Regions from separate parts of the Homo sapiens genome. Here region 1 is linked to region 2. A link means that fine-mapping ties the variant in region 2 to the expression of a gene that starts in the linked region. Tissue or cell type: blood mononuclear cells. Region 2 holds a variant in brackets; the other region holds the start of a gene. All regions are shown on one strand. Distances are from middle to middle.

Region 1 (8,330 bases), 60 kb before region 2:
TGGGGCTATGCTGGGAAAGGCAAGTGGCTTGGGAGTTCTGGAGAGCTGGATTCTGATTCTGATTCGGCTGAGCCAGAACCTCACAAGCCTCAGTGTGTTCACTCTCCCCCTCTAGTTATCACAATTCTATGTGATAACACACCGTGGAAGCTCCAGGGCCACACAGAAGGCTCTTCAAGAATGTCTCTTATTCCTTCTTTTAGTTCTAGCCCCTGCTCTGCCTCTTTGTTTGAACCTCTCTGGGTCCCTCTTCCTCTTGGTGCACACTGGAAGTAGGATTCCAGCAGGCGTGGGTACAAGGATTGAGTCAATCAACAGATGCGGAGGCCCTTTGAAAAGGTGAAAGGGCTATGCTGTGTAAGGTGTTATTATTATTAGGTTGGGGAAATTACCCACAGGGTAAATATTTCTGTGAGACGAAAATCAGAGATGCAGATGTAACCTCACCAGGGAACTATTTACAGCAACTTTTCCAAAGACTGAGACTATCCTCTGGCAGGCACTTTTCTCACCCTCTAATTATGGAAGTTTGATGGCATTTATCAGTAGGTGTCCAAATCCTAAGTAACCAACTTGCATATTTGATGTGGTGTCAGACAACAGGCATGAGGCATTGCCTCTTGCTCCTCAGTGTCTTCTTGCTTTGAAGTACTTACTCCCTGAAACAATTTTATAGTAACAGCTGGACTCTGAAGGGAAGGATTTTTTTTTTGCAAATAAATACATTTGCTAATTAAAACTTGCCCTTTAAAGACTCACATTTTCTTGACCCCACTATATGTTTTCTTTTGCTTGTAACATATCACAGAATCAATAAGGGCAATGCAAACATCTTTAATATATACAGTTTCAACAGCTCTCATAATGTATCTGCCTCCATAAGAATGCCCTCTCCCCCTCTCTAGCCCAGCTACTAATTTCCCCTGATTTGTTAAATGCCTCCTTATTTCACTCTCAGAGATAAAACTCAAAACGCAGTTACTCTTCAGGGGGAGTGGGAACGGTGGATTGAAAAGGGATAAAGTCAGGGGAGGGGGAATGATCATAGCCATGTCTTTGTGTTTTTTTAATGGCAGCTTTAAAAAGTTTTTATAATGGAATAATGAATGTTTATAGTAGGAAGATTATAAAATGCCAGAAAAAGTATAAAGAAGAAAATATATATTACTCATAACCCCATCACCCAGAAGAAAACACGGTTAATATTTGGCATTTTTTTCTTCAGACTTTTCTGCAAGAGGGTTTTTATGTAGCTAACAATTTTGAATTCTCTTTTAAAATATTATATATGACAATACTAACTTTTTTATGGCACGAAAAACTGCAAAAACACTTTCGAGTAGCTGCATAATATTCCAACAAAGGCTGTCCTCCAGTTTACTTATTTTATTTGACCATTTAGGCTGCTTCAATTTTTTTCCCATTATTACAAATAATGTACTGTCATTATATCCAATCTCCTGTTTTTCTGGGCAATACGTAGAGCTGGCTGTTTGGAGGTCTTAGGCTGAATTTTACAACTAGTGTTTCCTATGGCACAGAGCAGCCATATAGGAGAATCTCCGGTTAGCTATAGAGTTAGATTATAACATGGTAGCAACTGACCTTTTTTCCCCCCTCTAAAATGCTCCCTGAATTCTACTTCCTCCTGAATACTCTTGACATCGCAATGAGTAGTACCACCTTCTATTGAGATACCCAAGCTTGAAAACTGAGTGTCACTTTGGGCTTCTCCTTGCTACCCCCATCCAATCAGAAATCAAAATCATCCTCAATCTCTCTCAAATCTCTCCTCCCTTTTCTGGCTTCATTGCAACTGCCTTAGTTTCCCTAAATGACCTACTTTTTCCTGCCTCTACTCTTCCTAAGTCACCCCAGTTAATCCATTTCTCTACACTGCTGCCAAATCATCTTTTGAAAACACACTCAAGATCACATCCTTCCTCTTCTTAAAAGCCTTTATTAACTGTCTACCCTCCTTCTGCCCCAGTACCTGAACTTTCAGGATGTTTGGATCCTTAGCCTCCTTCAGGCCCTGTCAAAATCCAATCCTAGATGCTAGGGACTCATCTAGACTCCTCCAAGACCCTCCCCCAATATGTCCAACTCTGCTATGAGTGTCTCATGCTTTTGTCCATGTCATCATACTATTGCCTGTACCTAAAAAGCATCTCCCCTCCTTTCACGGTCTAGCTAATTCCTTGCCTTCAAAACTCAGCTCAAGGCCAGGTATGGTAGCTCACACCTATAATCCCAGCACTCTGGGAAGCCTAGGGCAGAGGATTGATGGTATTTGAGACCAGCCTGGGCAACATAGTGAGACCTCATCTGTAAAACAAACAAACAAACAAATAAAATTAGTTTGGCGTGGTGTGGTGGCACATGCCTGTGGTCCCAGCTACTCAAGAGGCTGAGGTGGGAGGATCACCTGAGCTCAGGAGGTTGAGGCTTCAGTGAACCAAGATGGCACCACTGCACTCCAGCCTGGATGACAGAGTGAGAACCTGTCATCTCCTATGGGAAGTCTTCCCTTACTCCCAACAATTCCATTGGGCATCCCTCATGATTAGATTCAGGTTATTCATGTCTACCAGGAATATCACAGAAGTGATATGTCCTTCCCAGTGCACTATATCAGGGGCCACTTGATGTCTATTTGTCACATTCCTGCTAATACTGATTTTAATCACTCAAGGTGGAGTCTTTCAGGTTTTCTATTGAAAAGTTACTATTTTCCCCTTTGAAATTAATCAGTATCATGTGGGCAGATACTTTGAACCTATATATATTTTTTGTTTCTCAACATACTTTCACCCACTACTTTTAGCATCTGGGTCTCATTTTTCTCACTGGTCAAATGAAATGCATAGACTGAAAGTGATTTGCAAAATTATCACTCTCAAAGATCCCTTTCTTATACTCCCTGTCTTGGATCTTCTGTAATGAAAGAATTTGTCCACCAAACCAATGTTACTCCTTCAGGTACATGTGTCTCATTTTCTCAGTGTACATTCATGAAACATGCCTACTGAACTGTAAGCTCAGAAAACAGGGCCTGTTTGTCTCACCACTGAATGCCGAGACCTATCACAGCACCTGCCACAAAGTAGGTGGTCAAGAAATATTTGTTGAAGGACTAAATCTAACTGCCAATCACAGCTGATGCCCAGCATTTGATGTCTGCAGTGAGGACACAAAGTTGATAAATGCTATTCAAAGGCAGAGACTTGACATTTTAGTTAATCTCAGAGGCTTTGTCACTGGTCACTGTACACTTATCATAAAGATTTTAAAAATAGATTGGACAGATTGTGTGGAAACTTCCCACCCACCCCAACCCATCCCTGCCTTTCTGAGATGCCCTAGTTATGAGATGTTGAAGGGGCATTCCAGCACCCCACGTTTATAATCTGTGATGCCTTTATAATCAGCATATGGCAACTGGCTAGACAGTCTCCTCACCACACAGAAGAGTTTTCAAAATAGCCTACCCCTCCTTTCACATTTATGTGAAATTAGCATTGTCACATTTCCTCCTTCATTGACTACTTTAGATCAGAGAGACACACTGTAGCAGAAGATCATGAAGGAAGTTGTCTTAAAGAAGGAAACTAACATAAATTAAGCATCTCATATACACCCAGTGCTTTCTTTCCATTGTTCTCTCTTTTAATCCTCACCAAAACTGGTGAAGTCGGTATCATCCATTTTATAGATGAGAAAACTGAAGCCGGGTAAGGGGAAATGGCTCGCACTAAGTCCTTTAGCCAGCAGGCAGCAGGGCTGGAGTGGGAATTCCTCCAGTCTCTTCCCCAAAGCCCTTCCAAGTTGCCACTCAGTCAAACTACCGCTCTCATCACATAAAAATGCCCTTCTCTTGGAAATGTGCTTGCCATCACGATCCAAACATTCGAGGGACAGAAATCTCTTGGACCGCAATCACTGCTATTTTTTAAGTGATTGTTATCACGACTCAGTAGCTGTTACCATGGTTTTGGGGAAGTTGTCCGAGGAAGGAGGGCCTTTCTTTGGGCATCTTGCATGCCTGAAGAAGGAACTCAAGATCTCAGCTCTTAATTACTCTGATTGTGCTGCAGTAGCAACTTGAAAGAGACCGTCCCTAGAAAAGTGTTGGGGTGGGGGGTGTGGAGTAACATCCAGCGAGCAGGCAGAAGGGAGGCCCTGGGCGCCAGAGAGACCCAGGGAAAGGCGAAGAGGAGGGAGAGGGGACGAGACCGTGCTACGGGGAGCCTGGAGAGAAAGCCAAAGGAGGAGGAAAGAACAAAAGGCAAGAGGAGAGGAAGTACAAGAAAGTCCAGAAAGGAAAAGAGAAAGTTTCAGAAAGGGGAAGAGAAAGCAAGCAAGGAGGGTAAAAGAAGAAAGAGACCAGAAAGATACCGAACTGAGAGAGCTCGGAGAACTCGAGAAAGCAAAGGAGGTAAAAGGAGAGAAGATGGAGAAGGCGGCGGAGAGGAAGGGGGAAGGAGACAGAGGAACCGAGACTGGGGTGAGGGAGCGGCCGCGCGTGGCCCCCGGAGAGGCGCCCATCACCTGCGTGGCGCCCCCCCGCGCCGGAGTGCGGCCCTGCTCCCAGCGCCAGTGCGCCGCGCGGCTCGCCGGCCTCGTAGGATTGGCTACCGCCTCCCATTCATGTAACCTGCGTGTGCGTGTGCGTGTGTGTGTGTGTCTCTCTCTCGCTCGCCCTCTCTTTCTGTGTGTAAGAGAGCGAGGGTGGGGGACGGAGGCAGGCAGGCGAGCAGGCAGGGAGGGGAAGAAGAGAAGGGAAGCTATTAAACACACACACACACACACACACTCACACACGCGCGCGCACACACCCGCCCCAACCCCCCAGAAGCCTCGGGATTGCAGCTGTTTCATGTGGGGCAGCAGTGCTGGCAGGGACGCCGGCCGGGAGCGGCCGGGAGCGGGAGCCGGTCGTGCGCGCGCGGCTGGAGGCTCGCTGGGGCTCCGCTCCCCGCGGGAGCTATTGTTGGTCTCGCTGGAGCTGAGCGCAGAGCCCGGACCTGCTCCTTCCTGGGCGCCCCGCTACGGCTCGCGGAGCAGAGGAGCCGCGCCGCCGAGAGAGAGAGGAGCCACCGGCGCGGCGCCTTGCCTCCCTGCCGCCGTCCTCGCCGCTTCCCCGGCGGTAGCAGCCTGCAGCCACGGTAAGGCGGCGTGATCCGCTCTACGGAAAAGCGCCTTGGGGACCGCGGCGACGCCTCGCCAGCTCCATCGCCCTCTGCACTGCTGGCCCGGGCAGGGTTCGGGTAGCTCACGCGGCTGCCGAGGGCTCCGGGAGATGTTTGCTTGCTCCCCTGGCCCAGGAGGAGGGAGGCTAGGGCGCGGGTGGCCGAAGAGGCAAGCTGTTCTGGAGCCTGGAGCCGCCGCAGCCCCCGGAGCCCGCCGCGGACTGGAGCCTGGGAGCAAGGGTTGGGGGAGGGCAGGGAGGTGGGAAGCGGGTGGGAGGGAGGCGGCGCGCCCCAGGTTCGTCTGCCTCTCCCGGATCCCGTTCCCCGCCCCGGCCCGGTCGCCTGCAGCCCCTCTGCAGACTAGCTCGCCCCAGGCCCCCGTCGGGCGCTGGAGGAGCCCGCGAGGCGGCGCCGGGCTTCAGCGGCTGCAGCCTGCCCTGCGGGGCAAGTGCCGGCTGCAGCAGCCCCGCACGGGCGGTGGTTGGAGCTCAGATCCTGGAGATGCGACCCCAGCTCCTCGCCCTCTGCAACCCGCGGGGCGCCCGCCTCTCCTCACCGGGCGCCCGGCCGCGGTATTGATGTTCGTCTAGGAGCCAACTGAGGCTGCAGCCGCCAGATGGACGCTTGGAGGGCTCCCGGGTGTGAGTGTGACTGTATGACTACTCTCACCCCCAGCTTCGGGAAATGTGCTCTGGGTTGAAATGTGATCACCGAGCTCCTCAGTCATTTTAATTGCCATTTTTAAATGCGGTCGTTACATTGGAGGAGCAGACTGGAAGGTAGTGGGGCGGCGTGTGTGTGTGTGTGTGTGTGTGTGTGTGGACACACACACGCAACCGAGGAATACACAACCAACTACTTGGGTGAAGGGCGGGGGGTTCACCTAGTGAGTCCTTCTTGGCGGGGGGGTCGGGCGAGTTAGCTGCCCGCTGCCCGCCCCTTCTCTGCCTGCCCCCGCCTAGGCGAGGTTGGAAAGTACTGGAAATTCAGCTGCGTGGTCCTTAACTTTGGAAATTGGCTCCGCTTTCAGGGCAAAATGTTAAGGCGATTTATGCACCCGCGTCCATGTGGATGAGTGTATTACTGCTCAGTTGGGTGCAGAGCCCTCAACAGTACCGCGCCAAGCCCCCACCCGATCTCTAACTCCCTCCCACCCCCTAACCGTGGAGAGAGGGTTTATAGAAATGCAGTTATCTGTAAACCATCGACGCAGTGAAAGGGGCGCAGGGAGGCAGCCAGAGTTTTGCCTGAACCTGCATACTGGCTTGGTGTTTGTAGCACACGAGATCACCCCGCTGCTTTGTAGAAGGCGGTGGTGGGGCAAGCTCGGGATTCCAATCGCCGGGGTGGGGGGTGGGGGGAAGAGGGTGCCCATGTACTGAGCTCTGAGGCCGAGTAAGGAGAGAGATCTGCTGAGCGGCATCGCGGGCAATTACATAAGCTGCCTCGGTGATTACCCGGAACTGTGATGCGAGCTCCCGGTTCTCGAAAGACAAGCCTGAAAGTTTGCCTGCTTGGGGAGTGTAAGTACCGGGGCGCCCCCACCCCGGCCTGGGTAGCTAGGATACGCCTCGCACCACGGCGCCCACTTGTGCGATGGGCGTCGGGTGCTGATGCTGCTGTCCCCAAAGAACCGGTTACCGAGGCAGGGACTAAGTGGGGGCATCCGGAATTGATCGCAGAGGAGGAGTCAGTCAGAACTGAGGTTTCATTGGGTCTTCAGAGCTCCAAGTCTTCCCTCGGAGGTGTTGGAAGGCCTTCCAGGGAACGCCGTTTTCAGAAACTGACTTGGTGTCCTGGGGAGCCCCAAAGCCCCTCTTTTCCGCCCTTCCTGGGCGCCCCTCCTTGTCTTTCAAGCCCTGTGCCCTTCACGTGTTTAGAAACCTGCCCGCGGTGCCTGGTCCCCCTTGGAGATGCCCAGGCAGCCCAGCCATCCAGGCCCACGCTGGCGAGGGGTTAGAGGGAGTAGAACGCTGGCTCTGCCGGGCTGCCACCCTTACCTACACCTATTCCTGGTTTCCTGCGCTAGCCCGGCGCTGATGGGGACGGGATGGGGCTGGGGTCGGGTATGGCTTCCGTTCCTTCGCCTCTCGCCTCTGCAGACAGCAGTTTGCTTCTGTTGCGTTTATTCTCCCCGTTTCGCCGCTTCCCTCCAGCGCCGCAGCCTGTGTATCACGTTGATGGGCTTTGATAGAGAAACCACAGTAAGAGTATGCTTTTAAATCTTGATTTTCGTCTGTAGGGGGATAAGCCACCCCAGCCCTGACACAGCCGTGGGGAACGCTGAAGTCTGGGACACATTGGCCCTGAACTCCCTTCCCCCCAGCCCGCAGTCAGGAGATGGTGATGTGCATGGGTGGGGAGTGTTTTGTTTTTGCCACATTCCAGCGTCCTGAAACCTCTCGTCCCCTCCCACTGAAATCCCCGATCTGTCTGAATCTGTTCCTTGCTGTAAAATAAATCCTCCCTCCCGCAGACCTGTGGGGCCCTTCGGATTTCCTGCCGCTGCCATGATCCTTAACAATGCGATTGAAAAGCCAGTGCTCGGCTGGAAAAAAATCCCCAGGTGCCAGCCGGCCGCGCCTTGACCTTGCTGAAGGAGCCTTTAACCCGGCTGCCAGAGGGGCTCTGGTCCAGCCGTGGGAATCCAGGAAGAAGGAGGGCGCCCCGGAGGCGGCTGGGTTAGCTCCCCGGGCAGGGCGGGAATCAGGTCGCGGCGGGGACCGCAGAGGGGGAGGGGACGGGACTCCGCGGCAACCTGTTTCCCGGCGAGCCGGGCCCGCGCATCCCAGCTCCCTCGCCCCAGCCCCTCGTGGCCCGCCTCCCCCGCCGGCCTCCAGTTGTCTTCGTGGTACAGGAGTCGGCCGCGACTCCCTCGCGCTCTCCGCCGGAGTCCGCGGGACGCCGCCAACTTTGGGCTCCTCGGTGGCCGGAGCAGCGGTGCGAACCAGCGGGGCGGCCGGGTGGGCGGGGCCTGGGCGGGAAACTGGAGCCGAGAAGACCGCGTTCCAGGCCAAGTTCCAGCCGCAAGCGCCGCGCGGCACAGTGCAGGGTCCCGGCCGCGCCTTTCTCCCGTCCCCGGCCCGGCCGCGTTCCTGCGGACTCACAGCGCGCTCCGGGCGCTCTGCAGTTGGGCTT
Region 2 (8,330 bases):
TGTGGTAACTTGGAGGGAGGAGGGGCACAGGGATCCTGTGTCCACAGACTAAGAGAGATGGTGTTAGGAAAAGTGCTGCCAACAGGCTGAAACTGTGAACCAGGACCTTTGAAAAGCTCTGGGGATTCCCAAAGGATAGGGGAAAAATATGTTTTTCATGGAATAACATGGATAAATCTCACAAATCTTTCTATATTTTCTATAGCTGTAAAGTAAAGCAAATTTACTTTAGAAAAGGGGTTATTTTTTGAATAAGAATTTGTAACAGTTAGATTTTAATGAGGGTACATAATTTGTAATTAGGCATTATTCGCTCTTCAAAATCTTGTTCTAACTGGGTAATTAATTGCATTTTTGATTATAGAAGTTAATCCATATATACTCTCATCTTAACAGGGGATTACTTTTTTGTAGATGAGGCACAAATAGAGGGTTTAATAACCTAGCTTCTTTCAGTCTTCTATGATTGAAAAATCTCCCGATCTAAAATATGTGATCTGAATGAACATTATTGACCATCTGGTGGAAATTACCCAAAATGTTGACAGTGAACTTAGATTAGTGGTTCTCAATCTTGGCTGCACACCATGAAGGGAACTTTGAAAAAAATACTGATGCTTGGGTGACAGCCCCAGAGGTTCTGATTTGATTGGTCTTGGCAGCAATCTGGGCATCTGGATTCTTAAAAGCCCTTTAGGTGTTTATAACGTGGATCCAAGGTGAAAGCCACTGGCCTAGAGAGAGTTAATTCACTCTCATGGAACTAGCCTTTCTTTCTCTCCAATGCCACTTTGGGCTGCAACCCTATGTTGTGCAGCCCACATCATTGCTCGGTGACCACAGGCTTTAGAATGTGCAGTGATTTTTCATGAAAGGGTGGCTCCTGACCATCCATTTTATTTTATTTTATTTTATTTTATTTTATTTTATTTTAATTTTATTTTTTGAGACGGAGTCTTGCTCTGTTGCCCAGGCTGGAGTGCAGTGGTGCCATCTCGGCTCACTGCAACTTCTGCCTCCTGGGTTTAAGAGATTCTCCTGCCTTAGCCTCCCGAGTAGCTTGGATTATAGGCACCTGCCACTACTCCCAGCTAATTTTTATATTTTTAGTAGAGACAGGGTTTCATCATGTTGGCCAGGCTGGTCTTGAACTCCTGACCTCAAGTGATTTGCCCACCTCAGCCTCCCAAAGTGCTGGGATTACAGGCGTGAGCCACTGCGTGCTCCGAGTTTTGTGGGTTATTGTTAAGCTGACCATCCATTTTAATGCCTCACTGTGCAGGTGGGAAATCCGAGAGTCAGAAGGAAGAAGTAGTTTGTGCATGTTCATACAGCAGGTGAGTCAGTGATAGACTGGGACTGAAATTCAACCCCCCCGCATCTCAGACCAGGAGCTCAGAATCTGGCACGGTCAGCAGAGGGGTGAGGATGATGAGCAGCATGGGGAAGTGGGTGTCCCTGACTGGAGGGAAGGACACCAAATGGGGATGCTCTGAAGCCCACAGATCAAGTGCGAGGCTGGACGCAGACCAGGTGCTCCATGACTGTTGTTGAATGAAAACAAGAAGCATGCCTGCACAGCATCGTGTTATTACTATCAATGTTACTCTTCATTTCGCAAAAGAAATACTGATTAGGTCCTATTGAGGAAAATGAAGGAATTGTATGGATTCAGGCCCTCTGCTATGTTCAGTTTCTATTCATTCCTCCACAAGCTGGGTCTAAAACACTGTAAATTAACACTGCTGTGGCACTGAATGAAATTCCTGGTCATCAGGCTGGCATGTGTGCCTGTCTGTCTGGCTGGCTATTTGGCTGGCTGGCTGGTTAGCTGTGTTCTAGCAGATGAACCCATGGGGAAGAAAGGAAGGGGGGGCAGGTTATCTTGATTCTAGTGCAGAAGGTTTCCTTGGTTGCTTCATAGAAATATGGGGCTCAATATTCTGGCAGTGCTGAAGGGCAGGGACGTGCCTTATGTGAACATTCATTTCTGTGCCGTGGTTTCTTGTTCAAGGCTTGACACACAGAAAGCAGGGCAGGTTTGGTGCATGAATGATGAATTGAAAAATCTCTATTATTCTAATATTTTGTTGATCAAGGATGTCAGTAATGTGGTGTTTTGTTTTAGACTACAGTAAAAAAATAGAAACACATGTATATATAGTGGGGAGTGGGAGGGGTCAAGAGGAGAGAGAAACAGGATCAGGAGCTCCCCACCGGCCATGAGCACCCTCCCTGGCCCACAGCTTGCATCTCCAGCACCCACACCTGGCACAGAACATGAAGACACACCAGTGAGGTGGTGATTGAGCAGGTTTACTCCTTACTGAGTTTGTGGCCATGGGCCTGAAATATCGCAGCTCCCTTCCTGATTTGCTTCTTGTCAGATTCTCATCAGAAAATAGAATTCATCCCAGATGGTCCAAATAAAGAGACTTGAATGAAGGAAGTGTTTTGTGGAAGTGGAGCAGTCAGGGTTAAGGGAACAAATAAGAGATGTTGAGGGCACCTGGGGGTGGAACCAAACCACCCAGGTCTAAAGGGGCAAGGCAAGGAGAGAAAGTGGTATTTCTGAAGCCAAAAGAGAGCAAGGCCTGATGGAGAGGCTGCTGTGGGCAGGAGCTGGCATTGTAGTGCTAGGCAGCACTGAAGCAAGGCGGAGGCAAGGCTCTTCCCCTCCTGCCCTCCCCTCTCCTGCTAGTGCTTTCTGTTGGCCAAAGCCAGTGAGGGGTGGCCAGAAAGGGGACTCAGAGGGTACACCTACTTGACCAGCCTCCTGGGCACAGAGCAGGGCAGAAAGGCAGAAGATGGATGGCGGGGCCAGGGTGCAGTTGGAGAAGCCACAGCACACTCATGAAGGGAAGGGTCTGTAGGGGCAGAGGGAGACCCAGGAGGCCACAGGCAGAGCGTGCCTGCTCGCAGCCCCTGGGGGCTGTGTGCTTCAGGGAAGTAATTAATACCATATCCAGGAATCTCATCCCTGGACCCATAATTACATGTACAGGAATTTTTTAAAGGGTTGATGGCAGTGGTTTTAATGTCTCATAAATATTCTTCCAAGGATTCTCCCCATAGAGAGGAGTGGTTTCATTTCTCAGGCTTGAAGCCAGCTCTGAGCCTTTGAAGAAGAGGCTCCCAGCCTCTTCTCGGGAAACAAATCTCACGGTAGCACCCCTTCCCCAGTGTCCTCCTCCCCCTCCCTACCCTCCATCCCTTCTCCCTGCTTCACTGAGGACTCAGGTCTCCATGTTTACAAGATGCTCTGGACTTCATAATTGCTTGGATTCTGCCACATAGGAGGCTTCCTTCAGGAAGTATTCCAGGATTGCTGCCAGTAGAGTTCCTGAGGCTGATCTCTGCAGGGCATGGGGGATTGCAGATGCTGGTAAAAACTTTCTTGAGAACTCCATGTTTGCTCATTTTGACTAAATTCTGGACTGAGAGTGGCATGTACATAAGTAGGAGGCTTTCATTCCACCGAAAGCGAAGCCTGCACAAGGCAGAGGAAAAGAAACACAAGACAGAAGGAACAAAAGAGCATGTGTCTGAAGCCCCCAGGTTAAGGAAGGGTGTTCACAGAGACCACCACCTCTAATCCCCAGAGAACCCTCTGGCACGGCCACTGCCAATTCCCTCAGTTGATTTGGCTCAGGTGTGGCTGGCTGAAGGCTGCCCGGCCAGACGAGTTACATTTGAATCTTGGCCCTCCCCCTAATGAGCTGTGTGTCCTTGGGCAACTCCCTGTACCTATCTGATTTGCTATTTTCTCCTTCGGAAAATTGTGTTGTAATTATGTCTAAGTTGAGATAATTTATGCAAAAATATTCTACCACCATATCTGGCACGTGCCAAATGCTCCCTAAATGTGACCTAGTTTGAAACCCCACCTTGGAATGAACCAAAGCCTGGACCCTCTTGTTGTCATTGAAATTTGTGTATAGCCCGTCCATTGTCAAGGCCTGTTCAAGGAAGAGCAGTGTGGTGTGTGGGCTCTGGAACAGGACGGCCTTGGTCCAGATCCTGCCTCTGCCACTTACTCACTGTGTGGTCTGAGGGAAATCACCTAACCTCTCTGGTCCTCAATTTTCTCACCTGGAGATAACATGAGTACTGACTTCATATGGCTGTCAGGAGGAACATATGAAATAGTGAATGCTCAGAGCTTTGTACCGTGCCAAACAGCGCTCAAGTGAACGTCGGATATCACAGTACTCCTTGAACCCATCCAATTCAAATATCCCAATGCTTACTGACTCACTGTCTACCTTGCACACTAGATGGGCTGCTCATTTGCACCCTAATACCTGGCCCCAAATTCGGTCCAGAGTTTAATGAACTCAATTCGGTCAACGGGTTGAATGAACGCTTGAGTGGTGAGCAAACGTTGGGGACTCTTGAAACACAGGGCTAGGTCCTGTGTGTTAGCCAC[T/C]GCAGAAGCCATGGTTACAACAGACAAGGAGCCTTGGAGCATTTTAGAAACCTGATGCATTTAGAAAGCTGTGCACACTGGTTCTTTCCTCCTGGATTTTTTTTTTTTTTCCAGGCCATTTGAGCTGTGGGACATAATTGCATCATTGGCTATAAAGACTGCTTTCCTGAGGGGGTACTTGTTTAGAAGTTCCAGGCCGGACTTGGCTACCCTTGATTGACCACTTGAGAAGCCTGATAATGGCAGGGAATTGGGCTACCTGGGGAGCACTGTTGCCAAGGAAAAAAGCAAGCTGGTGTAGCAAGGAGGTCAGAAGGGCTATCTGACCTGCACGGATCATGCACTCAAGAGTCAGGGCTACAAGGAGCCTGCCAGAGGCCTCGGAGGATCTAGAGAGGCCTGTTGTGTTCTAGGCTCCTGCATTTGGGGCCTTAGTGTGAGTTATCTCCACTAATCCTCCAAGAATTCTACAGGGAAGTTATTCTCATTCTCACCAGACAGTTGAGAAACCAAGATTGAGAATGGCTTATGGTCACACAGCCCCAAGCCTTACTACACAGCCTCTATTCTTCGATCTTCCTTACAAAGCTTCTGGCTTGGTTTTCCAGTCTGCACATCCAGGAACCTCCAACATTCAATTCTGAGTAATGGTTCTATTGCCTTTCCGTAAGAATGAAACGAATTTGATGAACATTTCCCAAAATCTGTTTCCTGGAACAAGCATCCTTGGAGTGCTTGGCTACAAAAGCGTTCTGTGATTAAACACATTTGGGAAATTCCCCTCCTTCTTGGAGGTTCACAGTGTGCATTCCCAAGTTCAAGATTCTGAGAAGTCCTGCAGTAAAGAAGCTATAATAAGCCAGCTTTTCCCAAGCTTATGCGACAAGGAATCTTTGCTTTGTTAATGCTTATTAACATCCTACAGAGCCAAATGACTCTTCAGTAAACACTGAAATAGATCAATCAGCCTGTTCCCAAGACCTGACTCAGCAAGTGGGCCCCCAAGGATGGAGATTCTCCCATGATACCACCCCAGTCCCTGAAATAGCATTGGATTCCCGCCTCCAGCATTCAGAAGCATAGTGCAGCCTTGTGTTGTCATTCATTCTCTTCCTCTCTTCTTTTTTTTTTTCCCTACACTGTCTTGATGTGGAAAATGCCCATGTGTGCCACTCCCAAGAACTATTGATAACTTATGAGAAATCTTGAAGGCAAACAAAAGGTGTTTAGACAATCTTGCTTTGCTTTTCTCATTCAACATTTGCTGCATTTCTGGAGATGTTGCCATCACACCTCCTTTTATAAAAGGACATTGGGAGGCTCATAGCTGCATGTGTTGGGGGAAGGAGGTTCTGTAGACAGAGAACAATTGTCCTGCTTCTCTCTGCCCCACCAGCCCTGCCCTCACTTTCACCCCCATTATTGACTGCCCCGTGGAGACAGAAAAGGGCTGAAGAGCAGACGAAAGTGGCTGGAACTCAACATGTCTAAAGCAGAGCTCTTGATCCCCCAGCCCCTGACAAGCCAGTCTCTCCCTCAGCTAATCCCCATCTGTAAACAGCACCACCATTAGCCCCGTTCCTCAAGCCTAAACCCTAGAAGCTGTCTCATTTTTCCTCTCCCTCACCACCCTCAGCCCATCCATTGTCCAGGCCTGTTCAAGGAAGAGCAGTGTGGTGTATGGGCTCTGGAACAGGATGGCCTTGGTCCAGATCCTGCCTCTGCCACTTACTCACTGTGTGGTCTGAGGGAAATCACCTAACCTCTCTGGTCCTTAATTTTCTCACCTGGAGATAACATGAGCACTGACTTCATATGGCTGTCAGAAGGAGCATATAAAATAGTGGATGCTCAGTGCTTTGTACAGTGCCAAGCAGCACTCAAGTGAACATCAGATATCACAGTACTCCTTGAACCCATCCGTCTCTCCATCTCAAATTGGACCACCCTGATCCAGTCCATTGTCATCTCTCCCTGAACCACGTCAATCGTATCTAAAAGGGGTCCTGTTTCCACTCTACGCTAGTACAGTCTCCACACAGCATCCAGAGAGGTCTTCCGATAACACGGCTATAACAGCCTCACTCCCCTGCATAAAAACCCTCAAAGTAGGTTTAGCATCACAATTAAAATAAAACTTAAACAACTCAGGCCTGACCTGGCCTGGGAGGTAGCTCTTTGACTTTCCTTGTGCTGTTCTCAACCTAGTCCACTGCTCCAGGCACTCTGACCTCTGCTCTGTCCTTGAACCCACGAGCCTTTCTCTCCTCCTGGCCTTGCATATGCTGCTACCTATTGCTAACCCGTCCAGCACCCTCGCTTGTAAAGGCCTTCCCCTGGGCCTGTCTCTGCCAGCAAAATGTGCATTTCCTCACACTCTCATTGTCTTATTTTCTTACCCCTACAAGCACTGTAACCTCTATGAGGGCAGAGGCTTGGGCTTACCAGTGTGTTTGCAGAAAGAATGCAGAAGAAGGAATAAAGAAGGACTGTGTTACAGGTTTCCTGAGCCACACTTTCCTCATTTTCTTTCTTTCCTTTTTTTTTTTTTTTTTTTTAACAGACAGGGCCTCATTCTGTCACCCAGGCTGGAGTGCATTGGTGCAATCATAGCTCACTACAGCCTCAACTTCCTGGGCTGAAACGGTCCTTCCACCTCAGCCTCCTGAGTATCTGGGACAACAGGTGCACACAACCATGCCTGGCTCTCATCTTCTTTCTATTATCCATATTTTACAGGTGAGGCTGCTGAGGCAGGGAAGGTTAAGACATATTTCCTGTGCCTCTCAGTTCATTAGTGGTGGTTCGAGGATTCAACCCCCAGCAGTCTGGAGCCTGCACCTGCCCCTTCTCTGCATACTGTGTGAGTGGGAGCCCAGTCTGGACATAAGGTGGAGTGTGGAAGTGGTTCAGAGCAAGGCATGCCCCCAGGTGACAGTCTGGACCGGGATTCCAGAAGAAAGACCTAGATTATTCCTCCCATGCTCCTCACTTAGCTGGGCAGCCATGCAATGTTCCTTCTCCACCAGTCTTGCTCGTTTTCATCATCTTCTTTCCCCTGTTCTTCCCCAGTTGCCCTGTCAGGAGCGTGATCCCCACATCCAGACTAAGGCCTTGGCAGGGACCAGGATAAAGAGCCAGAGAAGGGCCCCAGGCCCCCTACTCCATTGGCCCCTACAGGTGCAGGACAGATCTTGGTGGCGACAGGTCTCCAGTGCCCAAGATCCAGGCATGCACAAGATTTCCTATGAGACAGAAAAGCATTAGTTCCTGGGGAGAAGCTGTTGCCTTTCTAACCTTGACATTTTCAGGTGGTACCAGCAGCTTTGTACTTTAATTTGCCTTTTTTTAAAATAAAAATTTTAGACCAGTGGGTCTAGAAAAGTCAATTCTCAAGGAAGGCACGGAGAGTAAAGATGATGAAATGAGAGGATGTTCAACTGTGTTTAGTGTTTGAGCCTGACCTCTGTATTATGGGAAAGACACACTTACCGGGAAAAGATCCTTGGCTGGTTACAAAAGGATGGGAAAGGTGCCCTTGGCAGAGTAAAATATCTCTATTTTTTTTAATTGTATTTTGTTTTGTTTTTTGGCTTGTGTTTCTTTCTAGGACGTTATAGCTTTCCAGTAAATCACATCTCCACTTTCTAGGGAGTACAGAACACTTTTCTTTTAGGGCCACATTTAACCCATCCAGCTTCCCTCTTGGGAATGCTGTCCAGTACTTCCCTTGCAAGTGAAGGCTTAGCTTGGTGACTGGCACATAGTGAGCACTAGGTTAGCACTGACACTTATTTGCATAACAAAAAAGGGAGAACAGAAGTAATTTACATGGAGCGACTGCTGTGTGCCTGTCATTATACTAGGGATTGCATGTATGTGTCCCTCTTAATCCTCCCAA

The links. PIP is the estimated chance that this variant, and not a neighbour inherited with it, causes the effect.
Region 1: it holds the start of TENM4, and the variant in region 2 is fine-mapped to the expression of TENM4 in blood mononuclear cells (TOPMed, PIP above 0.99). The same link has a PIP of 0.9 or more in T cells, lung and monocytes.

What each region holds. Positions count from the first base shown.
Region 1 is chr11:79,437,347-79,445,676 of GRCh38, reverse strand. TENM4 (teneurin transmembrane protein 4) reads left to right here and starts at 4,647. Exons shown (of 34, transcript NM_001098816.3): 1 at 4,647-5,168. RefSeq lists silencers at 4,519-4,688, 4,949-5,058.
Region 2 is chr11:79,377,542-79,385,871 of GRCh38, reverse strand. The region is part of intron 1 of TENM4 (teneurin transmembrane protein 4); the gene reads left to right. Among named protein-coding and RNA genes, the nearest start is that of MIR708, 20 kb to the left of the region's middle. The variant T/C (reference allele first, on the strand shown) is at 4,430.